Linked DNA regions of Homo sapiens: region 1 is linked to region 2. The links come from fine-mapping of genetic effects on gene expression. Tissue or cell type: spinal cord. Region 2 holds a variant in brackets; the other region holds the start of a gene. All regions are shown on one strand. Distances are between the middles of the regions.

Region 1 (16,858 bases), 51 kb after region 2:
CAAAAAAGAGCCCGCATTGCCAAGTCAATCCTAAGCCAAAAGAATAAAGCTGGAGGCATCACACTACCTGACTTCAAACTATACTACAAGGCTACAGTAACCAAAACAGCATGGTACTGGTACCAAAACAGAGATATAAACCAGTGGAACAGAACAGAGCCCTCAGAAATAATACCACACATCTACAACTATCTGATCTTTGACAAACCTGACAAAAACAAGAAATGGGGAAAGGATGCCCTATTTAACAAATGGTGCTGGGAAAACTGGCTAGCCATATGTAGAAAGCTGAAACTGGATCCCTTACTTACACCTTATACAAAAATTAATTCAAATGGATTAAAGACTTAAATGTTAGACCTAAAACCATAAAAAACCTAGAAGAAAACCTAGGCATTACCATTCAGGACATAGGCACGGGCAAGGACTTCATGTCTAAAATACCAAAAGCAATGGCAACAAAAGCCAAAATTGACAAATGGGATCTAATTAAACTAAAGAGCTTCTGCACAGCAAAAGAAACTACCATCAGAGTGAACAGGCAACCCATAAAATGGGAGAAAATTTTCGCAACCTACTCATCTGACAAAGGGCTAATATCTAGAATCTACAATGAACTCAAACAAATTTACAAGAAAAAAACAAACAACCCCATCAAAAAGTGGGTGAAGGACATGAGCAGACAGTTCTCAAAAGAAGACATTTATGCAGCCAAAAAACACATGAAAAAATGCTCACCATCACTGACCATCAGAGAAATGCAAATCAAAACCAAAATGAGATATCATCTCACACCAGTTAGAATGGCAGTCATTAAAAAGTCAGGAAACAACAGGTGCTGGAGAGGATGTGGAGAAATAGGAACACTTTTACACTGTTGGTGGGACTGTAAACTAGTTCAACCATTGTGGAAGTCAGTGTGGCGATTCCTCAGGGATCTAGAACTAGAAATACCATTTGACCCAGCCATCCCATTACTGGGTATATACCCAAAGGACTATAAATCATGCTGCTATAAAGACACATGCACACGTATGTTTATTGCAGCACTATTCTCAATAGCAAAGACTTGGAACCAACCCAAATGTCCAACAATGATAGACTGGATTAAGAAAATGTGGCACATATACACCATGGAATACTATGCAGCCATAAAAAATGATGAGTTCATGTCCTTTGTAGGGACATGGATGAAGCTGGAAACCATCATTCTCAGCAAACTATCACAAGGACAAAAAACCAAACACCACATGTTCTCACTCATAGATGGGAATTGAACAATGAGAACACTTGGACACAGGAAGGGGAATATCACACACTGGGGCCTGTTGTGGGGCGGGGGGAGTGGGGAGGGATAGCATTAGGAGATATACCTAATGCTAAATGACAAGTTAATGGGTGCCGCACACCAACATGGCACATGTATACATATGTAACAAACCTGCACATTGTGCACATGTACCCTAGAACTTAAAGTATAATTACAAATATATATATTTTTAATATAATTATATTAATTATATATTTTTAATATAATTATATTAATTATATATATTTTTAATATAATTATATTAATTTTTATATAATTATATTAATTATATTTTAAATATAAAATATATATTTTAAATATAAAATATATTATGTATTTAATATATAAAGTATATTATGTATTTAATATATAAAGTATATTATGTATTTAATATATAAAGTATAGTATGTATTTAATATATAAAGTATAGTATGTATTTAATATATAAAGTATATTATGTATTTAATATATAAAGTATATTATGTATTTAATATATAAAATATATTATGTATTTAATATATATTTAATATATAAAATATGTAATATATATTATATATAACATATATAATATATATGTAATTATATATAACATATATATAATTATAATATATATATTTTTATATATTTATATATATTTATATATTTTATATATTATATATAAATATTATATATGATATATAATAGATATATAATATATATAATATTTATATATATAAAATTATATAATATGTATGAAATAATATATTTTATGTATTTATATATAAATATTATATTGATATAAATATATATTAATATATTATATATAATTATATATATTATATATTCATATCAATATATAATAATTACTATATTATTAATATATAATAATTAATTATATAAAAATATTAATATATATTATATATTAATATATAATATATATTATATATTTATATATAATATATATTATATATTAATATATAATATGTATATTAATATATAAAAATATATAAAATATATCTATATAATTATAAATATATAATTATAATACATAAATATATATTATATATAATTATATAAATATATATTTATACATATTATAATTATATATAATATAATTATATTTTATATATATTTATATTATATATATAATTATATGTTTATATATTTAATCTATATAGTTATATAAATATATATTTATATTTTTTATATATTTAATATATAAATATATATTAAATATATATTTATATTATTATAGATATATATAAAAGAAACATACCATATTTTTAAGAAAAGATGCTGGGTGGTTTCAAGAGTTTTTTGCAGTCTGCAAAATATCTATATTAATAAGAATGATATCTCATGTCTTTATAATATTTAAACAGCTGTTACAGACACTGTTTCATTAAATACAACCTTTTCATTGAGGTAAATAATATAATACTGATTTTGCATTTGAGGAGGAAATAGTGGCTTAAAAGGGTCATTAATCTTCCTAAATTTGCATATATATTAATGGGTTTATCAGAAGAAGAAAAATAAGACTCAGGCAATAAGGCTGGAAGACTGTACTGATTGAGTGGAGAACATAGGGAAGCCCCATTCCTGCTGCTGTTTGGCAACACATGAAGTGATTTAATGAGTGCATACATGCATGTCTGCTAATAGAACCCTTATTACATATGCACGGGACAAAGGGGCATTGAAGAACTTCAAAGCAATTCTCAGTTTTGTAGTTTCACAAGACCAAAGTCAGCACCTGAAACTTTAAAATCCATGGTCCCAATCACTTTGGTAGCCTCACCAAATGAATGGGAAAAGCCAACAACAATGGAAAAATTATCTAGGAACCCATTTAACCAGAGGTGCAAGATCTCTTTGGGGAAAACCACAAAACATGAATAAAAGAAATTGTAGCTGACACAAATGGTAAAACATCTCATGCTCATGGATTGGAAGGGCCAATATCATTAAAATAACCATATGCCCAAAAGACTTAATGCAATTTCTAACAAAATATCAATGCCATTTTTTACAGAATTAGAACAATTCTAAAAATTCATATGGAACCAAAAAAGCCCAAATAACCTCAGCAATTCTAAGCAAAAAGAACAAAACTGGAGGCATCATATTACCTGACTTCAAATTATACTACAAGGCTATAGTAATTAAAATAGCATGGTACTGGTATAAACATAGACACATAGATCAGTGGAACAGAATAGAGAAGTCAGAAATAAAGCCTCATCCCTATAGCCAACTGATCTTCAGCAAAGTTGACAATAGCATATGCTGGGGAAAGGACACCCTATTCAGTACATTGTGCTTGGAAAATTAGATAGCCATACGCAGAATGAAAGTGGACCCCTATCTCTCACCATATACAAAAATGAACTCAAGAGAGATTAAAGACTTAAATGTAAGATCTGAAACTATAAAAATTCTAGAAAAAAATAGGTAAAACTCTTTTACCTAGGCTATGACTAAGAATTTATGACTAAGGCCTCAAAAGCAAATGTAATAAAAATAGACAATCTAAAAATCTTTTTCGCATAAAGAGAAATAATTAACAGAGTGAACAGACTACCTTCAGAATGGGAGACAATATTTGCAAGCTATGCATTCAACAAAAGACAAATATCAGAATTTATAAGGAACTCAAGCAACTCAATTTTAAAGAAGCACAGATAACACCATTACAAAGGGGAAAAAGGAGATAAATAAGCATTTTTCAAAAAAAGACATACCAATGGCCAATAAACATATGGGAAAATGCTTAACATCACGAATTACCAGAGAAAATGCAAATTAAAACCGCAATAAAATACTATCTTACACCAGTCAGAATGGCTATTATTAAAAAGTCAAAAAGGCCAGGCGCAGTGGCTCATGCTGGTAATCCCAGCACTTTGGGAGTCCGAGGCCGGCAGATCACCTGAGCTGAGGAGTTTGAGACCAGCTTTGTCAACATGGCGAAACTCTGTCTCTACTAAAAATACAAAAATTAGCTGGGTGTGGGCACCTGTAACCCCAGCTACTCGGGAGGCTGAGGTAGGAGAATCGTTTGAACCCAGGAGGTGGAGGCTGCAGTGAACTGAGATGGCGCCACTGCCCTCCAGCCTGGGAGACAGAGTGAGACTCCCACTCAAAAAAAAAAAAAAAAAAAAAAAAAGATATTAGTGAGTATGTGGAGAAAAGGAAACACTGTTGGTTGGAATATAAACTATAGAAAACAGTATGGAGATTTCACAAAGAATTAAAAATAGAACTACCATTTGACCCAACAATGCCCCTAGTAGATATCTATCCAAAGGAAAAGAAGTCATTATATAAAAAAAATTCCTGCACCCATATGTTTATCGCAGCACCATTCACAATAGCAAAGAAATGGAATCAACCTTGTTGTCCAATAAGGATGATTGGATAAAGAAAATGTGGTATATACATACATATATGTATATATACACACAGACGCATATACATATATATGTATGTATATATGCACACACCATGGAATACTACCCAGCGAGAATACAGAATGAAATTATGTCTTCTGCAGCAACATGGATGGGACTGGAGGCCATTATCTTAAGTGAAATAACTCAGAAACAGAAAGTGAAATACCACATATTCTCTCACTTACGATTGGGAGCTACATAATGTATACACATTGACATAGAATGTGGGAATAATAGACATTGGAGACTTGGAAGGGTAGGAGAGTGGGAGGCGGTTGAGGTATGAGAAATTACTTAATGGGTGCAATGTACATTATTTGGGTCATGGCTACACAAAAGCCCAGACTTAACTGCTATACATTATATCCATGTAATAAAACTGCACTTGTACCCCCTAAATCTGTAAAAAAAAAAAAAGATGTGAAAAGTTATTGTGTTTTAAATGAGTAAATAATTATAACTACATAAACCTAACTAATATTTACCACTAATTTTATGTCCAAGTGGCTCTTATTAATGATCTATCAAGGGAGAACTGTAATGGAGAATTTCAAAGCCCATTGTCTAATTTACTTCTGACTTGCAAGGAGGTTACTTTCCAACCTGCTCTTGACACTGTACTTAGTGGATTCCAATTCTAACAGATATGATAACTGCCATGGTAGCAGGTTTGGAAACCTGTGTGCACACAGTGTGCTCTTATACACTTCCCAACCTATTTTCCTGTCTATTACAACAACATGCTACTCACTGAAAATTTCCACAGGCCCCCAATGTCATTGCTCTTCTCAAAGCAGGTGGGCTCCAGCCCCTCTTCCAGACAGCTCCTGATGGAGGCCAAGCCACTCACACCAGCTCCAATGATGGCCACTTTCTTCCCCATGGTAACCTGTGCAAAGGCCCAGAGAACATTTCCAGTAACAACATTGCTGAAAATGTATTTACTTATTTATCTATTTATTTTGATTTCGCTCTTTGGCTTAATAAAAACTTTACTTTTTAATAAACACTGGCTGAGTATGGTAGCTCACGCCTGTAATCCCAGCACTTTGGGAGGCTGAGGTGGGAGGATCACTTGAGCCCAGGAGTTTGAAAGCAGCCTGGACAACAGAGTGAGACCCTGTCTCCACAAAACAAAACAAAAAACAAACAAAATCAGCTGGGTGTGGTGGCACATGCCTGTACTCCCAGCTACTCAGGAGGCTGAGGCGGTAGGATCACTTGAGTTCAGGAGTTCCAGGCTGCAGTGAGCCGTGATTGTACCACTGCACTCCAGCCTGGGTGACAGAGTAAGACCTTGTCTCTAGAAAACAAATTCCTTTTAGTGATCTAACTACATTTTCATTTCTCTCTAATTTCTAAAGAGAAAGTTTTCTTCTGAAAAAAAAATAAGCACTTTGTTTTTAGTCATCAGCTCTCCAAAATTAAGAGACTGATGACCCAGCATACATATTTATCTTTTTTGCTTTTGGACTTTGTCATTTACTGTCTACCAAAAAGAGTAAGCAGAAGAAATAAAGATTCGCAACTAAAACACCTGTAGACACATCCACCCACCCACCCACATACATATGCCTGTATATGGGAATGAAGAAACACATATGTATATGTATACACACACACAGTCATACACACACACACACACACACGCAATCTGTATCTTCTTTTTACTTAGATACGGATAATGAGGAACAAGGTCTGAAGATGTCTGTATTTCAGTGTGCCAGGTAGTCACCCCTTCTCCCCATCAATAATGTACTTCACCTTCTCAATTAAAAAGACAAGTAAATGGTGCATACCTATAGTCCCAGCTACTCTGGGATTATATAGTCCTGTTGAGCTGGGGTATCGCTTGAGCCCAGGAGTTTGAGGCTGCAGTGAGCTATGGTTACAGCACTGCACTGTAGCCTAGGTGACAGAGTGAGACCTTCTCTCCGGGGGGTGTTGGGGAAAGAAGTCATGTTCTTACCTAAAAACAATTTTTTCCCACTACCTTCAGCGTCCATTCCCCTCTAAGAAAATTACGTTTCCTAACTTTTTTCTGTTCCTGACACTGTCTTTAGGCTCTACCACTACTTCTTTCACTACTTTTTTTTTTCTTTTTAGACAAAATCACATAGCTATGCAGGGAAATAGACTTGGATGATTAAACATCATGATCCGTGATTCCCAGAAACAAACAAACTGCCTGAATTATATCATTCTCATTCTAGCCATATTTGGTATAAAACTACAGCATGCTCCTTCTTCATTTACCCATCCCACCCTCAACCCTTTACTATATCACCTTTTATTCTTTTTCTTTTCTTTTTTTTTTTGAGACGGAGTTTCGCTTTTATCCAGGTTGGAGTACAATGGTGTGATCTCGGCTCACTGCAACCTCTGCCTCCCAGATTCAAGTGATTCTCCTGCCTCAGCCTCCCAAGTAGCTGGGATTACAGGCATGCACCACTACGCCTGGCTAATTTTTGTATCTTTGGTAGAGATTTGGTTTCACCATGTTGGTCAGGCTGGTCTCAAGCTCCTGACCTCAGGTGATCCACCCGCCTCAGCCTCCTACCTTTTTAATTTTCCTACCCGTTCTTTGTCTTCTTTTCTTCTGTGTGTCTACGTCCTGTCCAACCGTCTGGGCAGTTTGAAAGAGAAAATGTTCTAGTGAGCCTACATATTAGGAAGATTGTTGAAAAATGGGAGGAGCTGCTCTTAAAGAGATACTCATTTATTGGTCCTTGAATGGGTGAGCACACGCCAACCCTCTGTGATGGATGGGACTGTAGGCCAGTCTCCCATGGCCACCCAGTTTCTACTTTTCCTTTGATTATGGTAAACACAAGCTGCTGGTTATACTCTTGGACCCTTGGCCTGGGAGTCAAGTAGTTTCTCCCAGGTGACTTTGCAGTTCTGTACTCCATTTTATTATGTGTTATTTGAAAGTTTACCTTGTTTTCCTTATTCCTAGTTCTTTTGTGGGTAGCTCATAGTAGTCCTCCAAATACTGTAGAAACTTAGCTACTTAATTGAGATAGCCCAATAAGGAGGATGACTTTTCTCTGCTCTCTCTTTTCATGTCCTGTCTTGGAATTTTGGGGTCAAAGGCCTGTATTTCTCAAGCTTATATTTACTTGTTTCTGAGTACAGTGTGTGGTCACAGAAAAGATCAAAATTCCACAAATTGATCTATTAGTACCAGGAACCAGGTAAAATTAGTACCAGGTAAAATTATGTTGGCAGTTAGACAAAATAAACTGCACCTAACTCCCAGTCATGAAATATAGTAGAATTTCAAAAAAAGTTTTCCTATCAACTATATTTTGATGTCACTTAGAATTATAACATCTCACTCATTTTGTCTAGTTAACTCCTTCATTAAGCAAGTGATACTTAGTGTAAACTGGTATATGTCTAATTTTGAGGAATTACCCTTCATGCCTTTTGAAGACAGTAATCTTCATCTCTGAAGTGTGAGTATGAGAGATTCCAAATCACTTCTATAGCTCTGTGGCCTTGGGCAAATCACTTAACCTTTCCAATCGTTGATTTACTCATTAATAAAATAGGGATAACTACACTATTAATTCCTGTCTGGCTATTTTTTTTTTAACAAGGATTAGAGGATTAAAGGGTATGTACACATAAATACATGTATACATAGGTACATATAAAATGTGGCATGTAGTTAAAAATGAGCAAATGTGACTTGTAGATAAAAATTAAAAACAAGTCATAGGTTCATGAAATTTTCTAGGGCTGCAATTCAGACAACATGATTTTCTCTGCTCTCATTTTACATAGAACTTCTTTTCAGTTTTTAATGCTACATAAATAGAATTAAAATAATGCAAAGAAAAGATTGTGACTACTTCAGGAAGCAATACTACTCCTATAGCCTTATTCATTTAAAGATTGGCAGGACACACCCAATTCTACCTTGGCCTCCGATGTTTTATCTCTCTAGGAGGTGAAAAGGCCACCTATTCTTTGCTGTCCTTCACAAGAATGTATCTGAAGTCGACACATTTATTAGTCCTGTCTCTCTCTAGCCTATCCTTTGCTTGCCACAGCTTTCTGCAGAGCCCCTTTTTAAATCTTCAGAATCTCAAATGCCCAGGCTCTGGTTGGGGCAGTGGGCATTCTCTACTCTGTTGTCCCCTCCAAATCACAAAACTGCTAAGAAGAAACTTTCATCCCTGGATGGTTGCTAGATTATTGTTGCTGTTGGAGGATATGAGTGGAAGACTTATATTCTGTTCTCTTGCTCTATATTTTCTTTGTATTTTAAAGAAATTTTTGTTTTCTTCTAATTGATTTGCTGGAGGCAAGGCATATATCTCTTGTGACACCTGTTGTCATGTCTGATGATGCATAACAGTTGAAAGATTTCTATAAAATGAGAGTGGCTTTTGGAGACTCAGACTTGATCATCAAAGCTATGATGGAACATTCCAAAGATGTGGATTCTTTAGGGTCCATATTCTGAAGCTAATATCTCGTAAAGAATCGAGTGAACAACAATTAGTGCAGGCAGTGCTAAATGAAGCTGACAGTCTGTTGCATCTTCTGCTACAAGTTTAAAAAGTGTCTCAAACTTTTTTAGTTTCATAGCCAGAGGAATGCTGTGTTTATTTCCAAAGATATATTTTTTCATATGTTTTTAGCTATCTTTGTCATGTATGTGTGGGCTCTAAGTCAGTGATGTAAAATTATGTAAAATGTTTTCTCTAATGGGCTTGTCAATTGTTAACTTCAATAATGATAAAAATAAAGTGTCTTCAGTTTTTCTTTAGAAAAAAGATATATGCTGTTTGATCAGGTGATTTTACTTTTGGGAATATATCTTATAAAAATACAAATATAAGCATGCTTTAACAAATTGTATAAAAAAGTTTATTTCAGTGTTGTTCAAAGTATCAAAAATGAGATAGAATGAATGCTTTTTGTTAGAGAAGTGAATAAATTATTCTGTAAATTAGAGCTAACAGATAGCTTGGAGAAATACCCCATTAAAGTACTAGAAAGGAAAAAAGCAACATGCAAAAAAGTGCTTATAATATGATCCTTATTTCAAAAATGAATGCTGATTTTTAAAAATCTGTATAAATGTGAACACAGACACACATAGACATACTCATATGATCTGTAATGGATTTTGATCAGGGAGAAAAATATGAATGTATATATAAGAAGCGGTTAGTATGCTTTACCTTTGGGGGTCATCATATGTGAGTAGATGAAAGAGCTTAGAATAAATAAAATAGGAAAACTAAATTTAAAAAATTATGATAGGGAAAAAATAAAACCAAAACATTTTAGAACTTAGGTAATAAAAGACTGTCTATTTAATCCTGGAACTAACAAGCAAGTGCAAACAATGTTTGTCTGTGATTTTTGACATTTGGTTGCACTGTTGAGAAACACTGAGTTAAAGTCAGGTCCAATGATAGGTCCAGAGTGGTTACTCCACTTGTTCCTTTACAAAGGGGCAAGGTCTCTGTTCCTCACATTGCCACTATTGCCCCAGGGGCAGGAAAACCAAGACAGCCCTGATTAAGGAAAATAAATGAAGAGCTTATCTTACAACTTTGAGTTCCCATCTGAGCCTTCTGTGGCAGCTGCTGGAGTTACAAATAACCCTAAGTTACCAGGAAAATGGTCGCCATTACCAGAGCCTTCCAGAGCAGGAGCCTTATGGAATAAGAAAGATCACTTTCATCGCTCATTAGAGAAAGAACCCTTGTGTTGGTTGCTTTGGTAATTTTGGGGCAGTAGAGGTGAGGGGACAAGATAGCCTTTTAGGCTCCATTCCATTTCTCATATTCTATCACCTGGAACTGGGTTGGTGTATAATGGCCAAAAAGACTTTCCAGGCTAGTTTTGGATGCATGAGGAATGGGGACAGTAGTTTGAGTTTCACACCAGAGAATCTGACCATTTCATTCATAGAGCCCACATATTGCACCTGAAAGTAATGGGCCAGCCAGGAACACGCAAGAACGCAAAAGAGGAAGAAAACAGAAACCCTATTGGCTGATGTTAGCCTGATACTCATGTCTGCATTGTAAAACAATAATTTTCAAAATGTACTTTCCACTTAGAATCATGTAATTTTAGAACTTGAAAGAACTTTAAGGATTAAATTTATGAACGATCTCACTATAACATTTTGGGCTAGGCAATTTTTCTTTTCTTTCTTTTTTTTTTTTTTTTTTTGAGACGGAGTCTCACTCTGTCGCCCAGGCTGGAGTGCAGTGGCGGGATCTTGGCTCACTGCAAGCTCCGCCTCCCGGGTTCACGCCATTCTCCTGCCTCAGCCTCCCAAGTAGCTGGGACTACAGGCGCCCGCCACTACGCCCGGCTAATTTTTTTGTATTTTTAGTAGAGACGGGGTTTCACCGTTTTAGCCGGGATGGTCTCGATCTCCTGACCTCTTGATCCGCCCGCCTCGGCCTCCCAAAGTGCTGGGATTACAGGCGTGAGCCACCGCGCCCGGCCTCTTTTCTTTCTTTATTTTTTGAGTTGGAGTCTTGTTCTGTCACCCAGGCTGGAGTGCCGTGGTGCGATCATGGCTGACTGCACCCTTGAACTCCTGGGCTCAAGAGATCCTCCTGCTTCTGCCTCCCAAGTAGCTGGCACTGCAGGTGAGTGCCACCATGCCTGGCAAATTTTCTTTTCTTTTTTTGTAGAGTAGAGATGGGGGCCTTGCTATGTTGCCCAGGGTGGTCTCAAACTCCTGGGCTCAGTGATCCTCCAGCTGTAGCCTCCCAAAGTGCTAATATTACAGGCTTGAGCACTATGGCAAGTCAGCCTGGGCAGGGCAATTTTTCATTGTGTGAGATCATCCTTAAGATTGCAGGGTATTTAGCTTACCTAGTATCTAAGTCAATAAATGCCAGTGAAAACTACTAGGCATAGAAAAAGAAAAGACTACCCCTATATATTTCCAGATGCCACTATGGGGAAGTATTTCTGCCATCAAGACCCACTTATAGATCAACACACCTATTTTGTTTTTAGACCTAAAAATGTGAAAGAGGTTAATTAACTAATTCAACTTGTAGTTGTAGCTGACTAGTTACAAGTCAGACACACGTGCACTGTCCAGCATGCTGAGTTGCGTGGCATATTAAATAGCCAAAATAGAAAATATGTAAAATGAAGGGCAGCTGGTTGGAACTTATAACTAAGGAGAATGCACATGATGCCTTTCATTGGCACATTAAGCTGCATTCATATACACTTTTCATTTTTTAATCTAGTAAATGAGTGTCTATTATATTCCAGATAATGTTCTAAGTATTAGTGACAGATGTTCTCTGTAACTTATTCCAGTGATCTCCTTCGTTGCCAGTTTTCCAGTTCCACTCCTAAGTGTCTGACAACAGTGGTATATATTTAAAATTTAGGACCCCCTCAGCAAGTTATTTATTTATTTATTTATGAGATGGAGTTTCGCTCTTGTTGCCCAGGCTGGAATGCAGTGGTACTATCTCTGCTCACTGCAACCTCCACCTCCTGGGTTTAACAGGTGATACACCTGAGTTATTCTTCCATTTCACTACCTCTCCCGACTCCAGAATACCATCAAGAGGAGGTTACACATCATTTATTGGACCATAAGTAACACAGAAGCCACTTAGACACTACAATTAAAAAATGAGAAATAAGGACAGTAGTTTGAGTTTCATGCCAGAGAATCTGATCATTTCATTCTTAGAGTCCACATACTGCACCTGAGACTGATAGGCCACCGAGGAACACACAGGAAGGCAAGAGAAGCTGCAAAACAGGCACCCTATTGACTGATGTTAGCATGATATTCATGTCTGCATTAAAGTTTATGAAAATGTTACATATTACAATAAAAAATGTTATAGTGATGAATAGTATAGCTTTTATAAATAGATTAGTCAAGTTAATTTGAAGATTAGCATATATTTGTTTTTTTATTAACCAGAAATATTTCCTTTATTAAAATGTGGTAGAATTACTTCACTAAGATCCTACATGATTTAGTACATTCAGTAACACTTTATAACAAAAGGTTATCTTCAAAATGGTGGGCTCTTACCCAAGAATTACAAGCACTGCACAAATTACTTTAATTGCTTTTAGAAGCCATCTCTTGTAGGGAAGTTGTAGGAGACTACATCTATGAGGTCAGCCAACAGTAGCTGACTGAATGTCTCCTAATGAATCTCTACTTCCAAATTTTTCTCAAGAGCCCTCTTTTGGTAGTTTCTTAGTTTTCTCTTTAATTAAAATGATAATTATTCTCCTTTTTTTGAAACAAAATGAGCATTTCTTTTTTATACATGATATGTTCAGGTAAATAATCAGACCTTTTGAAGAATCACACACACATTTCCTTGATCGTAGTAGCTTTGCAGAATGCTGAAATCACTCACAGTCCTGCAGGCAACTTCCTATTCTCCCTCAAAGAACACATAAGTAATGATGAAACATGGAACTTGGGTCATAGGATCATATGGGACCAAATTGCTCAACAGGTTTGTCTTTATCAGGGTTTCCCCTAAGGTACCAGGGGACCAGTACATCCCGAGAACAAAAAGAAGTCCTGTTAATATGAATAGGAAGCTTGGAATTAGTAACTTGCCTTGAATTATATCCTCCCTCCTAAGAGTCATTAATGGAGGAGACAGAAGATGCTGAGTCTTGACTGCCCACATCAGGCATTTGCTTCACAACCATCCCCTGCACTGAGGTGTCACTGCTTATCTCCTCTCTCTTTCCTTGGCTAGTTCTGTTTCCTGTAAGCTACTTGGACTTCTGTTTATTATAATATATTCTTGTTGCATTGCCCAGACATAAATGAGTGCCTTCCCACCAGGTTTCAGGAGTCCAACATGTTCTTGAAGAGCTGTCATTCTATGTTCTGCTGTTGCAAAATGGGGAATAACAGCAATGGAGAGTCAGGCATACCAAACCCACTGTGGACTGGTACTGCCAATGCATCACAAACAAAAGCCTGGAATTGTCTCACTCTACAAATGTCCACAAGGTTTTGACTCTGATCACAACCAATCACATCTAACTCCTTATTGATGCCAAGGTGCTTTCCATTACCACATCCAGTATCAGCCACTATTAAGCCACTTGGCAAAGCCTTCAAAAACTCAATGATGTGTGGCCAAGCTGTATATCTCATGCTGCTGAAGTGCCCAGCAATCTATTAATAAACTTGATGGATGTACTCTTGCTCTAGTTGTCAGGCTTCTTTATCACTCTCTGGAAAGGAGGGAGGAGTCTCTTTCCTCTGGCTATCACAAGCCAAAGGGTAACCCATGGGCCCAAAGGTATCTAGATTCTCCTGTCATCACCAGCCAACTCAAACAAGGCAAAATAACTGGCACTGTGATACCATCTGGGTACTTAAAATCCATGACAGTCATGCCCAGGTTCATATTGATTTATGGTCAATTGTTCAGGTTTATGTTTAATGTAACCCTCCCTCAACCATTTCTCCAAAAAGCTATCACAAACATCAAGAAGACCCCTAGGCAAATGCTTATCTTTATCTACATTGTTTTTCTCACAGTGGAACTCATAACCAAAATGCTTTACTCTTCTGTGTTTTAAGCATTTTTGAAAATTTTGATGGTCTGTATCTTTTGTTTGATCAACACTTTCCAAAAGAATTTTCTCATCCTCAGTAGAAATTATTTCTTCTACTACTATGAGGACTAGTGGTAAGGCTTGAGGCCCCAACTCCTTCCATTGTGCTTTTTCCACAAAATTCAAATACAGAATCATCTTTTGTCCTAAATCATCCACTATTTCTTTCCCATTGAGAGTAACATAGGCTCTCTTAGATTCTTCTGTAGTTTTGTATCTTTCAAATGAGTAGGGCTTGTAAGGTGGCATTAAGAGAGCATCCACCAGTCCACATTTCTCTAAAACCAGTAGCAGTTGGTTTCTACTCACACCATTACCTAAACCAACACTGGCAACAACAAGCCTCTCCTCTTCAGCTCAGGCCGGATTCAGATTCTCACCCTGCAAGTGCTTTGTTCTTCGCTACCCTCTCCACTCTAGTGCCAGACAGCCGTCATGGATACTTGCACACCACCTCTCCTGGGCTCGGCCATGTTGGAGAAAAGCAGCATATATTTGTTTATAGGAGACCTAGTATATTTGTAAGCTAGTTTTGTTGGCTTGACCTCTGAGGTGCTGGAAGAGATTCAAATGTTCTTTGATCTTTTCGCCAGAGAACAGCAGCAAAAAACTTGTTCAAGCACATAACTTAGTATTTTCTCTTGTGATGAAAATTAAAGTTGTTATATAATCTCTATTATATAGTAAAATGATTTTTTTCTCAGGAATTACATCAACTCAAAGAAGTCTCTGTTTACTTTGACATCTGAACTTTCACTTTATCCGCTAGTTATAATTCCTTGGTTATCATTATCATTACATAAATTTTTCTTTCTGAAAATGGATGATAGTTCTTACAGAGTGTAGGAGTCATGTCTTGTAGTCTAACTTGGATTTTCCTCAGCACGATGCCCTATGCATACATAGTTGATCACAAAATTATTTACTGAATGGTCAGAAGTTTTAAAAATGAGCCCTATTTTAGAATAGGAAGCCTAGTACAGAGGAGAAGACTATGATTTTTAATAGTTTCTCTACAGTTAAGTCCACTTAAATTCATAAAACATTGACAAATACTGTTTTACTGCTTTTCATTGACCTTTACCCTATTGGTAACATTAACCAGTATATCTTTGCTAGGGATTATGACCAGATCTGGAAAAAAAAAGATAACAAAACTATTTTCTTTTCAAGCAGAGACCTCATATTCCTGGCAAATAAATCGACCTTGACAATAAAACACAGGCATTAAACTATTGGATGAATGAATAAGGAGTAGAAAAAATTTATGTGTAACCTTCACAATGAAACTTGCAATTACCAGAAAATAATCTTGTTGGTCCTTTTAGTGGGCACCAAACCAATGAATTATTCATAAAATTCATACATGAACAGAACATCCAGTTTAAAACCTACCTAATGCCAAAGTTGACAACTTCCTCAATACTAAGAGCCAGGAATAAGACTAAGGTATGCTTGTGGGTAACACGATGGGACTTAACACGTGGGCAACGGATAAGGCAGGAGAGAAAATGAAGACAGAGAAAAGTCAAAGGAAAATAATTTAGCATCAGGCAGACCTAATTTGAAACTCAACCTCCAGTGTGTATCAGCTGCATAAACTTGAGAAAGTTATTTCCTTTCTTAAATTTGCTTTTTAAAAAAATCTGTAAAATAGGCATACTGCAAAAGGTGGTCACAGGAATAAATTAGCTGATGAATATGAAACAGCAAGGTTCTACTTGGCAGAGAGTATTTTTGCACACAGGCTCATTTAGTGGCAAAGCACGATCTCCCTGGAAGAAAGCACAGCTGGTAAGAAAAATATTGGCACAAAAATATACACTTCTGTTTCGGAGAAGCTTTTGTAGGTTAAAGCAGTATGTCTCGCAGCTTTTAGCAGAGGTAAGCACAGCAGCTCTAGAAAATAAAAGATGAATTACTTAAAGTGGACTTTGTTCGTCACTTAAACTGAAGCTAAACCAAATCTGTATTGCCCTGAAACATGCTTGAGAGCAATGGTTCTTAAATAGCGAACGGCAAGCTGACGTGAATGGATTACAAATCAAAATGAAACAGATTACCAGGCCTCATCCTGAGCCTACTGGGTCAAAAATGAAGGGTGAAGCCTAGAAAGGAGTCACTTCCCCTGAAACACTCTCCCCATCTACCACCACTCAAAGAAAGCAAACAACTTCCCTCACCATGAGAATTGCTGAGTTTACAAATGAAGAGAGCCCAGTGTGCAAACTAGACCAAATTATACTAGATTTGGTACCCTTGATCACATGGGCTAGGAGTTCAGACTACACTGGTCAATTCCTCAACAAGGAGTAACTGGACATTTATATCAGCATCCTGCTTCATGTTTTTTACAGCAATGCTACTTATATTTATGATTAACTTAGCTATAGTGAAGGCCATCTGGTTTTTATTCCAGAGTGTGTGTTTGAGATACTCTTAAAAACCTGTGTGACTTGCATGGAGTTTAGAATTTAAAAGTTGC
Region 2 (16,858 bases):
ATGTGGGGCTTAAAATCTAGATGAAGGGTTGATAGGTGCAGCAAACCACCATGGCATGTGCAGACCTATGCATGTTCTGTACATGTATCCCAGAACTTAAAATAAAAAAAAATTTTTTTAAAGTCTAAAATTTAAACTAGTAGAGACAGGATTCTTTCACTGCCCCTGAGGGCTGGTGTGTAGTTGTTGAAAGGATTAGAATCATACCTCTAGGAACAACAGGGCTCTGTGTTCAACTGTGATGGTTTAATCTTCACATACTCATAGACTAAGATGGCAAGTCTGGTAGGGACCAGATGATCCAGTGAGCCCCAGTGGTTGTGGCTGGTGATAGTGGACTAGGTGTGGGAAAAGTGTAGCTAAATCTCTAGCTGAAATTAGGCTGACGAGATGTCAAGGATTTAATTCTGTTCTCTGTCTCTGGTTGCCTTTTCCAGTTCTCCCTATACACATACCCCAAGGACTTCTCCTGAGCAACCCAAACCATGGCAACCGCCTCAGCCCTGAGATGAGTCTGGCTGCTTATCTATTTTACCGTCTTTGCAAAATAGACTTTAACTTTGTGATAACTGAAGGGAATTTTTAGTTTAAAAAATTTAGGTTTTATTTACATCCATTTAAGAATTTATTTATTGAGAACCTGTTTTCTTAAAAATATGTTGTTTCTTTAGGGTCTATCGATGATACATGATTTAGCTTGGAGTCCTCTGGGAAGTCTTCCTTGACCTCATCCAGGCTAAGTTAGATTCTCTTTTCCCTGTGTTGCTATTGCCACACCTAATTCTACTGGAAGACTCACCATCTCCTCTGGTGATAGTCTGTGTGTACCTGTCAACTCCATCTCCATCCATTGACTCTTTCTTGAAGTCAGGAACTAGTCTAACTTATTTATGCATTTATTTTTAGTTTATCATAGTTCTGACACATAGTAAGCATAGTAAGTGCCCAATATTTGTTGAGCATCTGCTGTTGATTGAATTAATGTTAGTAAATACCAAGTCATGCATATCTTTCAGAACTTCAGAGTGGTAAACACAGTGCTTTTTGCATGATACGTTATAATAAATACTGTTAAATAAATAAAGATTAAGCCTGACCAGGAACTAGTCTATTTGGAGGTGATCAGAATATAAAATGAAAACAAGAAATACACACATACACACTCATCTGTACATACACGCACTCATGCACTTACTTCTGGATTCAGTGGAATGTACTTCCTTACTAGCACGGGCCACATTACCTGGCTTCACATGGAGGATGTCTCAAGTCCTCCTTGATTTGAAGGGCCACATAGAAGAGGTGGATCTCTTGTGGTGTGACATAGAAGTACCATCCTCTGTGCCTTGGCTACTGATTTAGTAGCACAGCCCTACCTTAGGTTTATTTCCCAAAACCTTTACGTCATGTACCTGTGTAGCCAGACGGCTGAGCTCAACAGCAATGTCAGATCCCGAATTCCCCAGACCAATCACGAGGACCCTCTTCCCCTTGAAGGCTTCTGGATTCTTATAATCCCGGCTATGGAGGTAGTTGCCTCGAAACTGGTCCAGGCCTAAGTGGAACATGGCAAGTTGTTTGAACTGATTTTCAGAAATTATGAAGATGTTTTCTTTGTGTCTTTTTAAACCTATTATCAGTTGTAATTAAAAAATTCCCTAGTTGAAGTGCATTTATCCATTTAGCATTTTTTGACATTAAGCCCCCTAAAACTTACTTTTAGTTCCTTAAAAAATCTTAAGGCATGAGAATGTATGTTTCGATAATAATAATGGTTAATATTTATTAAGTTAACTCTGTGGGCTAGATCCTCTGATAAATGCTTTACACGTTTTAACTATTTAATCTTGATAACATCCCTGCATGGTGGGCTATTGTCCCTATTTTAAAAGAAGAGGAAATTGAGACAAAGAAGGTAAGTGGTAAGGAACTAGTGGAATAGTAAGTTGAGGCCAGGTGTTCTGATCCCATGCTCATAAACATTAAATATGCTGCCCGTTAACATTAAGAGTTTTAATCTTATATTCCTCCTGAACCTTCACTCTTTAATTTTCCTCGGCCTATGGACATCATACCTAGACATGGAAACTCTAATATCTTTGAGTAGATTGTGTTCCTGTGGCAAGGAAGGAAGGAAAAATGGAAGGAAGCCTCCATGTATATTGTATTTATTTGAGGTTTGCCACTTTCGGATGGTAATGAAGTATGCTGCTATACACACACCCATGTGTGTACCCACACACAAATCACTGAGATTTCTAAAGTTTATTTGCAAATTGTGGATGAAGATGAAATTAGAAACCTAGGAGTCTCCTATAAATAACATAAGTAAACGTGTCTTTCTTTAAACCATTTGGCAGTTGGACTCTACTTTTTTTTAATGTAACTGTGCTCGGAGACCCCGTGTGCTGTTAGAACTTATATTTGAGTTACTGTCTGTAAAACAGGAACTTGTGTTTGTCTGATCTCTGGCTTGCAGTCCTTGATTATTTTAACATAAGGACTTATGAGGCTATTTATTACTATATCCTATCATTAAACTTAATTTTTTTCTTTTGAAATCTAAGAATAATCATTATGTAATACCTATAGAAAGATATGTTTCTAACTCTTGATGTTTGCATATAAGTCCCTAGATTATTATATATTTTCCAAACTTACCAGGAAAGGAATCCGTTGGCAGATTGGGGTATACGTGATGTCCTGAACAAATCATTACAGCATCAAAAATAGTAGATTCCTGTTTCCCATCCTTTTCAGTAACAACAACCCATTGGCCCGTGACTAAGAAGCTGGGACATTTCTTTATACCGGAAACCAGGGTCTTTAAGAAAACTAGAAAATTTATTTTTCCATTTATAATTCTACATGTGAAAGTTTTTTTCCTTCTTGCCTTGTTTCTGTGGAGGAAATAATTGTTACGAGCTCTCTTGGTCATTCAGAAATGTATAGAAAGATAGTAAAATTGGAGTCACAGTGAATCTTCAGTGAGTCTTTGAATCTCACAAGAAAAATTACTCACTGGAGTACATTTACTTTTTGACATCAAGTTAGTTGATTTAGGGGTAAATCACACTGAATATTTTTGTGAATGATGTCATATAACAAATCTGTGTTATTTTCTTATGGCTACCCTCTACTGACATGGCTTCCTCCTTTTCTGACCTCATCTTCCATCTACTCAATAAGTATGGGAATATCTCAAGGTTTGATCGTTGGCATCTCTTTTGCTCTGCATAAATACTCTTATCTTAGAAATATAGCAACTTTACGGCCAGGCGCGGTGGCTTATGCCTGTAATCCCAGCACTTTGGGAGGCCGAGGCGGGTGGATGACGAGGTCAGGAGATCAAGACCATCCTGGCTAGCATGGTGAAACCCCGTCTCTACTAAAAATACAAAAAATTAGCCGGGCGTGGTGGCGGGCGCCTGTAGTCCCAGCTACTCAGGAGGCTGAGGCAGGAGAATGGTGTGAACCCGGGAGGCGGAGGTTGCAGTGAGCCGAGATTGCGCCACTGCACTCCAGCCTGGGCGACAGAGCGAGACTCCGTCTCAAAAAAAAAAAAAAAAAATTAGCAAGTTTTGTGGTATGAATATACAAATACATCTATCCTTGGTCTCTCTTCTATCCAGTTTAGCTTGACCTTTCCATCTGGAGGGCCACCTAATACTTCCTCATATGTAGCAGGTTTTGATTGACCTACTTAAATTTCCTTTGAAACTGGCTTCTGACTTTCTTATTTCTTTGAATGATGACATGAAACTCCCAGCCACTTATGCTTCAAATCCATGACTTGTTTTCCTTGTTATTTCTCCATCCTTGCCTCATGTTTAAACAGTATTTATCTCCCAATCTCACGCTTTCTTTCCATGATTGCTAACACTGCCTTCATTCAAGTCCTTATCACTCCCTTGCATGGACTACGGCAAGAACCTATACCTAGCCTGTCTTCAGCCTCCCATTTCCTACAAGCCATCCTTTGTCCTGCTTGTCAGATTAATCTTCCTGAAGGACTATATTCATTTCTCAATTTCTCTGCTCAATTCACTGCTCAATTTCTGTTACTTCACAGCCTCTAAAACTTATTCTACATTTTGAATGCGATTACTATTAAGTCCATACAATTTTGTTCCAATTTACTCTTTTAGTTTTATTTTCTGTTATTCCCACAGACTTTTCTGGAACATATTCTGCAAATTGCTTCCCTAATGTCCATTCTCCCTTCATTCTTACTAACAGAACCCTGATTTTGTTTGGAGCGACAACATACACAGAAAAGGGATGCATTTTCCAGGTTCCTGTGCAACTAGGGTGGCCTGTGAGATATAAGCAATGTTGGACAGTTTTTTCAGGAGAATTTGTAAAAGGGGAGCTGATTCAGCTGAGAGAACATCCCTTTGCCCTTCATTCTTTACTTTTTTTTTTTTTTTTGCCTAGAAGGCAGATGTGACGGCTCAAGCTTCAGCAACTGTTTTGCACCACAAGGCAAACGTCATGATGTAGGCCACGTGCTAAGATGGGTGAAGCTGAATCTTTGATAACTTTGGTGCCATCACATAAGCTCTGGATGTCCCTTCTTTGGACTTCTTTTACATGGTTGCAAAATAATCCTCTATTTTTCAAAGTCACAGTACACACTAGTTTACTGATATATGTGGCCATATCTCATCCTAGCATATATATCTCCCTCCTAACCAACTTGGTTTGCCCACTGTTCTCCAAATGAGCAGGGCATTTTCCCACCTCTCTAATTTTACTCATGCCACTCATTTATCTAAAACACCTACTAAATACAACTAAATTTTACCTCCTCTAGAAAATACCTTCCCCCAAAGTGTTGCCTCTTGCTTCATGATCTCCATAGCATTGTTTTATTTATAAACAAATCATAAAGAGCTTTAAAAAATTTTCTCTTTGATTGAAATTGTTACTGGAATCTTTTTACTTACTCTTTACATATTTATTTTGAAATAACTTCTTGAGAGCTAAGTCTTAGACCTCTTTTTCTTTTACATATAACACATAGCACAATGCAAGCACACAATAGGAACTTCATTAATGTTTGTTGATATTAACACCATAATGGAAGCAAATGAATGTAATGAATGAATGGAATAAAATGACTATTGGAAAATTTTATTTTAACTATACATTTGGGGCTACTCCAGGTAAAATAATGATGTAAATATCACCATGGTTCATAATTTTGCTGATTGTTTTTCCCACTATATGCAAGTGTTCTGCATTTAGCAGCAGTTAATTGAGGTTAAGAGTTCCAAACATACAGACAGAAATGCTCAATAAAGAGTCCCAAATAAATGTAAAACATTATTCTCGCAGAAACAATGCTGAAATCTCACCTTTTTAATAAAAAAACTAATGAACTGAGTGGGTAAAGATGGGGGCAATGACTATATTTCCCATTTAAGTTGTTAACCTTTTCATAATGTAATGGGAGAAACCCTACCAAATGCTCTGGTTTTTTGAACCACAACTCATTGGCATTGAACTGACAAAATTCCTAATATATACTAAAGCATTTTGGATTATTTCCAAAACATCAGAGCATGAGGGTGGAAAGTGGACAATGATGGGCTAGCTGCCTCCATTTTCTAAGGTAGTCTGAAAGCTCTCAGAGACTAGTGAACTAGTAAGTCTAGGAGAGAAAAAATCAATGCATGAATGCTTTATAATCAGAGCCAACATTTGATTACTGAGGTGCCCAAACATTTGGCTCTAATTTTTATAATAGTTTGCTGCCTCCTTTTTCTCTAACCCACACATATCTTAATTTCAACAGTACAAGTTATGAGACCCCTACCTCAAACTGTATGTATCTTAAAAGATCCTTCTTTTGAGCATATGTCTTTATATATTCCTGGAGCTTGCTGTGGTGTATATAGTTTGGGTAATCATCCGGATAAGGGAAGTCTGGAAAGCACATCATTTCTTTGGAAGAGTTTGTGAATACAGACTGGTAAATGCTGGCTCTGCCTTCTTCTGTGTGGTCCTAGGGAGAATAAGAAAGCTTAAAGAGAAAGCCAAGAATTGTGTTCCCTTCAGTGAACACAGTGGTTCAATTCTTGGTTGACTAAAACCCTTTTCATGTTTAAAAGCGTAAACAAAAATTAAAAGCTCTCAGTAAGATAAGGAATGGAAAGCCCTTCGCGTAGCACCTGGCACAGAACTGGAGCTCTTTCCATGTGAATCCTCTTACTGTAATTACCCTCAGTGTTAGCTCTGTCTTTATAGCCACTTAGTGGTTTTTGCTTTCTCCTGTGCCACCACTGGTTCTGATCTTATACTCAGGTTAAAAAAAAAACAAAAAACAAAACTGTCTAGAAGAGGCTCTGACTTCTAGCCTATTTATTTGCTTTTGGAGTTTAGCAAACTCTTCACTGGCAACAACCCAATATTGCAGTGGTTTCCCAGCTTTGGCGTAATGAGAATCGCCTGGAAGCTCCCTAGACCGTAGATTCTTGGGCCCTATTCTTAGAATTTCGGATTCAATCTGTCTGGGGTGGAGTCTGGGGTGGTTTGCATTTCTATCAAGTTCCTGGTGATGCTGATGTGGCTGGTTTAGGAACCACACTTTGAGAACCACTGCTCTGTTGTAAATGAATCCTATTCTTTGGCTCACCAGTTGCTGGACTTCACTCCTCACCAAAGAAACACAGGAAACCAGAGCCCTTAGAACATGTGTTAAATCTTGGCACTTCATTTTAAAGCCTCTGTGTAATTGAAAAGTGGCTTATTTTTTAGAAGCAGTCAAAAGCTAAATTGAAAATAAACATTTCCTCTCAGTTGTGAGGGTAGGGTAAAAGTGCACACAATGTGCTGCCTTGAAAATACATTTCAGAGCTGGCAGCTTCTGCTTCCCGAGGTCCGGAAGGACTCTTGTGCAATGGGGGGAAAGAGATGGAATGTCACGTTGCTGCTGGATTCAAGATGTGTCTCTCCCTCTCACACCAGATGACCTCTGGAAGAGGGAAACAAAAAGTGCTGGAAAGGGTTGAGAGGATTGTGTCCCCGTGGGGAAGTGGGGGGCTGCCCAAAGCCTCAGTATTTTTTCTCAAGTTGAAAACATAATCTTCCTCTATTCATGGTTGCTGTATTTCTCATAAGCGTGGAAGCACAGGAATTTAAACTTTTTAAAATTTTTGTGGAGGTCAGAAAAAGGGTGAAGGCTCATGTCCAGCAGTTTGGCAGGCTGAGTGCTTCCCTTTCACCCACAGCTAGCGCCTTCTACTGATGGTTGTGAGAAGAAGGAGAGGTGGGAAGGAGGTTTTTTCAGCTGCCTGTTGAAAGGAGGCAGGGCTGAACTGTGGGATGGAGCCTGGTTAAAGAATGTAAGACTCTGTTCTGGGAAACAGATGCTAAGGCCTTGGAATATTTCCATCTTGAATGAATCTCTGCTTTTTTGCCCCTTGACCTCAGCCAATTATAACAC[C/A]AGGAGAGAAGAGTATGTACACTACAGCTCCTTGGAATTTTTCCGAAAAGACTGTTCTCCAAACAAACACAAAAAAGCAAATGTATTAGATAACAAGTCAGTTGCTCCAGGGAGCATGCATTTTTATTATTTCAATATGAGGTGTGGTTTGAGCCAGTAAGGAGGAAATTCAACTTTGACTCTGCCTCTAGCTGAGGGAGCTTTACCCTGGAACCAGAGATCTAAGCAGCTGTGGGCACCATCTGTCTTGGATGATAACCGTGTTCATCTCTCATCTTTCCCACGAGAACATAAGTAACTTGAGGGCAAAGTCAGAGGTTAATTTCAGAATGTTGTACATGCATCTAAGCAGTTTACCTTGATCTTCTTTCCTATTCCAGCTCTGCTTATGAGTCCCATATCTCCTTGTCTAAATATGCCCTTGAAATATGCTCAAAAGTTGCCTTCAACTTTGTCATGGCTTTCTTTACCTTCCCTCTCAGCTACTGCCAAATCATCTTTAGTTTTACTAAGGTCCCATTATCCTTATTGCCCTAATTATATAGTCACTTATAGTTATTCTGATACTTGTTTTCTCACGGCTTTTAAAGTGCTGGCTGGCCTCTTATCTGCAGCTTATGCTTAATATAGTACCCTACACATAAAGTACACAGTATGTATTCATTGAATGAACAAAGGAATAAATGAGTGGGAAAAAGTTCAAATAGTCCTGGCTTCAGCTTTTGCAATCAAAATGCTACTAACCTATTGGTAAGCATTTTTTTTTTTTTTAATGGAGTCTTTCTCTATTGCCCAGGCTGGAGTGCAGTGGCATAATCTGAGGTCACTGCAACCTCTGCCTCCTGGGTTCAAGAGATTCTCCTGCCTCAGCCTCCTGAGTAGCTGGGATTACAGGCACCCACCACCACACCTGGCTAATTTTTGTGTTTTTAGTAGAGATGGGGTTTTTCTGTGTTGGCCAGGCTGATCTTGAACTCCTGACCTCTCGTGATCCACCCGCTTTGGCCTCCCAAAGTGCTGGGATTATAGGCATGAGCCACCGCACCTGGCTGTTGAGCAACTTCTTATTACAGCAGTAATGAAATCTTTTGAGGACACGAGGCCCTATTTAGGAGTGGATGAAACTTAAAACACACATTCAGCCTGCTAGTATTTAAATCCCATTTGGTTTTCATTTCTCAGAAAAAGCAAATAGTGAAAAGTTCAGAATTACCACGTTTCTGTCTGCTAGAACACCTTCTAAAAAAGGCTTACAAGATAAAGTCTTATGTAACACATAAAAAAAATCCCTCTCTGATTATATATTGTGCCAAGCAACTTTTCTAAGAAAAGAAGGAAGGGCTGGGGTATGTGGAGGAGGCTAAAGTTTTGAGTATTTGTATGGGTCCATATCCTCACCAGGACTTTGAGTAGAATTTTGCTTATAGACATGACCTTATGGAAAAGAAGAATTTCCTCTTGTGGATAACTCAGAATCCAACTTTGAATCTTACTGATCTTTGTATCATATTATTGCTTCCTTAAGTAAACTTTCTGATCTGGCTATATTGGATAACTCATGGATCCCTCTCTGCACACACCATGTTCATTGCCTTTTCTGTGCCTTTCATGGATTGTTGGTCTCTCTTAACCTGGTGCTGGCACACTGCCAATGACTGCATAGGCCTATGGAGTGCCATTCGCAGACTTTATTGGGAAATGCACTCTCTAGGAGTTGTGTCACAGGTGGTCCTCTATTTTGCTTGTCTGGGGTTATCCTTCAAGGCTAAGTGTCATCCCTGTGGGAGGTTTTCTTTGACCTACTAAGATTTCCGTAGTCCACCCTCTTCTAAACGCTCGAGGCACTCGTCCATTGAATTGATGGTGACAAGGTCTATCTTGTTGTTGTAGTTATATAATCTCTTATTTTAAAAGTCTTAGGGCCAGATATATTTTGGAATGTGTACATTTTTGGATTTTGCTCCATAATACTCCTAGTGAGATCTGGGGCAGCAATCTGTCAAATGCAATAAAATTTCTGCCGTGCAACAGAAGGTGAGACTTAGCTTCATGTTGATCCAATTCACGGTATTTAACCTTACGATTTCAGAAGAGGTTCGGCTATCAAATGAGTTTTTGCCCATTTGCTATCAAAGGATTACGGAATTATATTATGGCTTGCTTAATCAAATGAAATGGAACCATTTACAAGGAGTGATTATATTCCATATTTGTCATCCCAGTACTTAGCACAAACTACCAGAATAGATGCTCAAGCATCATTTAATTGTTACTAGGGAGATGGTAGAAAGCCATTTTATGATTTACTCTAAGCTGTCCACATTTCCCTGAGCAAATGTAAATAGGGAAAATTAAATTCTTGAAAAATATTAACTCTTGATTACCCCCTACTGGGAAATAAAAATTAATGACCTTATATCTCATGGAGTGCTTTCAGGGTTACAAAACCACAAATTTTTTTAAAAAAAGCTTGGAGAAGAATAAAAATGTGTTCTAAGTTAGCACTGATATACTCTATTGGAGGAGGCTATTGGCGCAGGCAGAGCAGTAACTGAGACCAGGACAGGAAGTAGTTACAATATGAATGATGTGAATATGTTTTCAAGCCAAATATGTATCATCGACAACTGATTACAATGGCTGGGAAATCCAGGACAGAAGAACTAGAAGTTTCTCCAAACTTGGCTTTGAAATTAAAAAAAAAAATGTGTTTACAAGGACTATTTCCTAATTATATTATTTCTACAATGAGCCCAAATGGCAAAGACCATAATTTTTCCCTCTGGATTTGGAGCTGATAGGCTATTCAACAGCCGCACACACAATCATCATCTATAATAATTTCTATCTGCCCAATAGACATAAGTTAATTATAGAATCATATCCTCTGCATTTGACAAATGAGCATTTGAGGTCCAGGGAAACAAAAGCAACTGGACTGAAATCTTATCTGCCTAGAAAACCTACAAGTTGAAATTAGAACTCAGGACTTCTGACCTCAGGATCTCAGTCCAGGTTTGTTTGTCTCTTTTCTAGTCGTGTTCCTGGCATTTAAGAGCAATAAAGAATAGAATTGTTTCACTTACCTGGGAAGCCCATGGTATATTTTTGACTAATTACCAACATTAGTGCCCTTTACAGCTTGGAGATCTGGATTTCACCATGCAGGTGATGATGTTTAATGAGCTGAAAATGTCCTTTTCAGGACAAATTTTGCTGGTATGAAATAGTTTTTTTGGGCATTAGTATGATTGGAGAGGTAAGATTTTACTTTCCAGATTTGGAGCTTTTGTGATCTGCCTTCTAAATCTGAATTAGAACTGATCAGATTTGATTTGCATTGGAATCCATCTCCTTCCACTGGTGTTCTAATGATGTGCCACTCACTGAGAATTTCCACAGGCCTCCAACATCATCGCTCCTTTCAAAGCAAGTGGGCTCCAGCCCCTCCTCCAGACAGCACCATATGGCAGCCAAGCCACTGACTCCAGCTCCGATGATGCCAACCCTCTTGCTCATGATTGCCTGTAGCAGAGTCTGGAGAGAACATCTTCAGAAGAGTGTCTTTAATACTTACGATTTTTTTCAGTAGAAATTATCAGCCAAGGTTTATGTATCAGGATCCTCACTCAAACATAAGAAGACATAGATGCACATTGATAGTATATGCTCATTATTTTTACCACTTTTGCTATAATAAGATTCTAAAACTGGCTGCTTCTGATTATTCAATATGTCAAAAATAGCAGATTCAGTGAATGCTAGAGCAGGAAGGACCTTGAAGATCATCAATCCAATGCTCTCAATTGCAGATGACGCTTTGGTATGCTGAGACTAGAAACTACTTCTTCAAGGTCTCAGAGGTAACAAATAAAGGAATTGGAACTAGACATCCAGCCTGCTGCATGATATCCTCTGTACAGAATCACTCCTCATTTTGAATGCTCTAAGGGACTTCACCTCTTAAGCAATCACCTTTCTCTCCCCAGAGAATCAGCAGTTCTCGAAATGTGGAAGAGAATGGCATTTAACAATGTCTTTTGATGTGAAAACTGGGGAAGGGGGAGGAGTTATTCTTAAAGTAAAATTCCTTTTTTTTCTTGTATTTTTAATGGTATAGAGCCATAGTAAAATCTGAAAGAGAAGGACTGAGTGTGGTAAGGATAAGAGAAGAACAGGGGAGGCATGGGTGAAGTAAAAAGAAAGGGGTAGGAAAAAGGCAAGAATGAAGTCTTTGGTTCTTGTTACAAAAAATATAAAACAGTGACTGCCATGGCCACTGGAGCTGTAAGGTGAAACTCCTGGGAGATTAGGGGAACAATGATTCTTTCATTTATGTTTGCTTTGGAAATATAGAATATATAAACAAAGGCTATGCACCTGGACTATAATGAAACGTTTTGTTGTGCCAACAGTGAAAAGTAGCTCAAATTTCTGGAAACTTAGGGCCTGATCTGAGTTGCTGAACTAACGCTTATAGATGAGCTTGTAAAACTAGTGAACTCAAAAGACAGAATTGTGGTCTCTGAACCTTGTCTCTGGCTCCCTCCGGCTTCTATACCTGTCCTTTCTGCTTCTGTTTCCCTCCTTTCCTTCCTCTGGCCATTCCTTTCACTGTACTGACAGCCTACTATATGTCATGCATTATAATAGTCTTTTGGGGGATTCAAAGGTGAGAAGACACAGTGCTTTCCATCTGGAACCATGAAGTCTAGTGTTGAGGGAGATGATAAATGTCACAGTGGAAGTATGGTTCAGTGTAGTGCTAGCATGTAGGAAGAAAAATCTAGGTCCACTTGGAGGAGGAAAGAGAGGCTTCAAGGAGTGTGAGAAGACAGCTGAGTCTTGAAGGAAGAATAGATGTTTTCCAGACAGATAAGGGACAAGAAATAGAAAAAAGGCAGAGAGAAAAATATGTGAAAATGCATAGAAAAGTAAGAACACGTGATGGGGGAACTACAATTAGTTCAGTTTTGCTGGACCATAAGTGATGGGAATAGCAAAATATGGGTTAAACATGCAGGACATAGGTTATGAAGGATACTGAAGTGCCACAATCACAGGTTTGGATACTACCTTCTGGATTACGGTTGTCCATTCGAGAATTTTGAACAAGGAAGTGACAACATCAGACAAGATCAGATTCACCTGGAGGCTAGAGAGGATGGTGACTAGAATCAAGGAGACCAAAAACCCAGGATGTTATTTCAACAATCTAGGCCAGAGAGACTGAGGACTTAAATTAGAGTAGCATTAGAGGAATGGATAATGGAGACAGGATATATGAGATATTCAGGAATTAGATGTTTGGGGACCTGCTGACTGATTATATGCTTAATGCCTCAGCAAAAGTACTTCTGTTTTTAAGATTTCATATTATGATTTATATGCATATGCTCATGATTTAGTGCAGGAGATAAAAAACACTATATATCATGAAGAAAGGTATATACTACAGGGAATTAGGTGCTTGCAAAAGGTCAAAGAGCTGAAAGAGCAGGAACTAGGAGGTTGCTGCAGGACTGGAGAGGTCACACCACTAGAGCTACTATCCAGAGGGCAGGAAACTGCTTCAATCACCACAGATGCCTGCAACATACAAATTGGGGGGCTAAAAGGTGGAACATGGAGTTCAGCTGATATAAGCACACCTGTTGGAATACATTTGCCCATCAGCATTGTCACGAAAATTTAGCTTTTGCTTCCCTTTGCCTTCTGAGCCTAGATGTCTGTCTCACTGGCAAAACTAATTGCATCCAATCCCTAACTGCAAGAGAGTCTTAGAAATGTGGTTTTTTAGCTTTCCAATTCTTGTAATACGTATGATATTAAATGAAAGCCAGTTCTGTCTTCTTATAAATTTTAAAAATATTCATACTGTTATCTAATATTATAGTTAAAAACTCAGTGATTCATCTCTTTGGCTGTATATTTTGGGATAATTCTTGCAGGAATTTAGATCCTTCCCCTGTAAGATAAGCAAATTGGATTAAGTAATTACTAATATCCCTTCAACATTTTACAAATCTCTTAATTTCCTGCATACACCTCAGTGTATTAAGAAATTAAGAGATTTGTAAAATGTCAGCTTTTCAAAGACAGAAAATATAATTTTCTGAAAGGGTTGGAAACTTTTCCATCAGCATCATGGGGAGGAGGAGTGGAAGCATAAGGCGATATAGGAGAAAAGCCTCATGCTTGCCTTCCAGGACCTCAGGCTTCTCCTAGCTGCAGGTTCAGCTGAAGGTAATACTGAAAAGATTACAGCTGAAAGTAAAGTCCAAGGTTTTGATTATCACATATGATGGGATCTATTTTCCGGATTGAGACTGCATTTGTGATTTAATGAGATCACAGAAAGTCCTGTTACTCAAAAATGATCAGGAAAATCAGACCTTGTGGATCTCCTGCCTCCCCCTGCATTCTCATAGCTTGGCAGTGTCTTTAGAGCTATAAGAAGGTGGTATCCCAGGTACTTAATCAACTAAAAGATGAAGTCCCTGGAGTTATTTGATAGGCCAAAGTGAGCAAGATCATGAAACAAGGGGAGAACATTGTCCACAGTGTCTTCTTCTTCTTCAGCGCCAGCAGTTCTCTACTGGTGAACCATCTTCAGGCTGACCCTGAGTACTATGGAGGACCCAGGAGGAAGAGATATGTTAAGGCCAGGGATAAAGGTGATCATTTCCAGAGCTTCTCTACCTCCCCCTCAGCTGGGAATCTACCTCTCTGTGGCCTTTCCATGTCTCCTTGTACTTAAAGTTCCATGCTTTTCTCTTAAAGCTCAGGGCTCTATAGGTCATACCACTGAGGCTTGCAGCCCCTAATGGTTCACACTAGCCACTCCAAGAACAGGATTAAGAATAGACTGAGATTAATGAACATCTTCAGAATGCTGACACGTATTTCAAAGTGCTTTTCATTTATTTTCTTCCATTAACCTTGTGAGGCAGGTATTATTATTCTCAATATACTAATGAAAAACTGAACTGTTCAAATTTGCTAAGCCAGCAAAAATTGATGACTTGATGCTATGTTTTTTCCAATACCCTATAAATGGGAATAGTGAGAAGACATACTTTAGAGAGTATGAAGAAGATACTCTTACTTTAGAGAGTATGGAACCTTCAGAGGGTTATTCAACAAGTATTAATCGAGCATTTACTGCATGCCAGGCATTGTTTGCAATGTTACAGATACAGTGGCAACAAAAAAGGACAGAGTACCGTCTCCTAGGAAGCTAAGTTCTAGTGCAGACTCTGGGACATGGTATGTAAAATGCTTCAGACTGCCTCACAGTCAGGAAATGATGGGGGAAAATACCACTAAAAATAATCACTTTAGAATGTGCATTCACTGGGTGCCAGGCACTAAACTAAGCACTTTAGACACATTATGTTATTTGTTTTCAAAAGTACCTTATAAGGCAAGTATTACTGTGGCCATTTTTCTGAAGAAAGACTGGGGCTTAGCAGGTTAACCTGGCACAATTATACAACTAAGATGTGGCAGGACTGTGAAGATGTGCTGCCTCCCCTTAAGAGAAAGAAAAGAAAAGGAAAAGAAAAGGAATTATTATGTACCAAATATTTAATAGGTATCAGTCACAGCATTAGGCCAGATAGATGAGAGGAAGACACATACATTGTTAACTATGCTACAGTTTTGACCATGATTCACATAGTAACAGAGTCTTAAAAGGGGCTATTTAAACCTAGAAGGGTGAGAAATTTACTCTGTGGGAGGGGACTGGAGGAAGATTTGCATTTTCATCAGTGTTTGAGAAAGGACTTTGAAGAATGAAGAAAAATGTGTGGTTTGAAATGGGTGGAAAGTGTTGTCAGCTACAGGGACCATGGGAGCAAGAGCACATACCCAAGAGAGTGCACACGGAAAGTTGGGCAGAGTGCAGAATGCAAACCATGAGGTAAGGTGTATGACAAATAAAAACTGCGTATATTTAAGGCACAAAACATGGTATATATATATATCTCCCCATTGTGAAATGATAAGCTATTTAACATACTTATCACCTCACATAGTTACCATTATTTTTGAGTGAGAACATTTAAGATCTACTCTTTTAGCAAATTTGAAGCATACAATACAGTATTTTAACCATAGTCACCATATTGTACATTACATCTCCAGAACATATTCATCCTGCATGACTGAAACTTTGTACCATTTGACCAAGATTACTCAATTTCCCCCACCCTCAAGCCCCTGGAAATCACCCTACTACTCTTTGCTTCTGTGAGTTTATCTTTTGTAGATTCTGCACGTAAGTGAGAATGATCAGTATTTGTCTTTCTGGGCCTAGGTTAATTTCACATAGCAAAATGTCTGTCAGGTTCATCCATATTGTTGCAACAAGATGTTTTCCATTTTTAAGCCTGAATAATATTCCACTGTAGTTAAGTGCCACATTTTCTTTATCCATTTGTTGATAAATGCTTAGGTTGATTCTATATTTTGGTCATTGTGAATAATTTTGCAGTGAACATGGGAGTGCAGACATGTCTTTGACTTACTGATTTCATGTCCTGTGGATATATACCCAGAGGTAGGATTGCAGAATCATATGGTAGTTCTATTCTACTTTTTTGAGGAACCTTCATACTGTTTCCCATAATGGCTATTCTAATTTACATTCCCATCAACAGCATTCAAGGATTCCCTTTACTCCACATCCTCACCAACACTTGTTATCTTTCATCTTTTTGATAATAGCCATCCTAATAGGTGTGAGGTGATATCTTGTTGTTTTGATTAGCATTTTCCTGATGATTAGTGATGTTGGGCATTTTTTCATATGGCCATTTCTTTTTTAGATGTTTATTCAGGTCCTTTACCCATTTTAAAATCCGGTTATTTGTTTTCTTGCTGTTGACATGTTTACGTTTCTTATATATTTTGATATTAACCCCGTATCACATGCATGGTTTGCAAATCTTTTCTGTCATTCTATAGGTTGTCTCTTCACTATGTTGTTTCCTTTCCTGTATAGAAGCCTTTTATTTTGAAGCAGTCACATTTGTCTCTTTTTGCTTTTGTTGCCTATGGTTTTGGGGTTATATCTGAAAAAATCATTGCCCAGACAAATCTCAAAAAGCTTTGTCTCTATGTTTTTATTTTCAGTAGTTTTACAGTTTCATGATTTATATACATGTTATACTTACAGTTTAAGTCTTTAATATATTTTGAGTTAATTTTTGCATATTGTGTGAGCTAAGGGTCCAATTTCATTCTTTTGCATGTGGATATCCAATTTTTTCCAACACCATTTATTGAAGAAACTATCCTTTTCTCATTGTGTGTCCTTGGCACTTTTGTCAAAGATTAGTTGGTTGTATATGTGTGGGTAATTACGTGGCTCTCTATACTGTTTCATTGGTCTGTGTCTGT

Which allele goes with the higher level. Positions count from the first base shown, and alleles are read on the strand shown. Sizes are in standard deviations (SD) of each study's normalised expression.
In carriers of allele C in region 2, the expression in spinal cord of the gene that starts at base 7,380 in region 1 tends to be lower than with A alone (moderate effect, 0.50 SD a copy in GTEx).

Evidence for each region. PIP is the estimated chance that this variant, and not a neighbour inherited with it, causes the effect.
Region 1: FMO3 starts here. The variant in region 2 is the best candidate, but not a certain one, in a credible set for the expression of FMO3 in spinal cord (GTEx, PIP 0.65).

The regions. Positions count from the first base shown.
Region 1 is chr1:171,081,427-171,098,284 of GRCh38, reverse strand. FMO3 (flavin containing dimethylaniline monoxygenase 3) reads right to left here and starts at 7,380. Exons shown (of 9, transcript NM_001002294.3): 1 at 7,304-7,380; 2 at 5,495-5,632. The coding sequence starts at 5,626. It also overlaps the pseudogene LOC646804.
Region 2 is chr1:171,132,323-171,149,180 of GRCh38, reverse strand. The region is part of intron 3 of FMO1-AS1 (FMO1 antisense RNA 1); the gene reads left to right. It also overlaps the pseudogene FMO6P. Among named protein-coding and RNA genes, the nearest start is that of MIR1295A, 39 kb to the right of the region's middle. The variant C/A (reference allele first, on the strand shown) is at 7,451.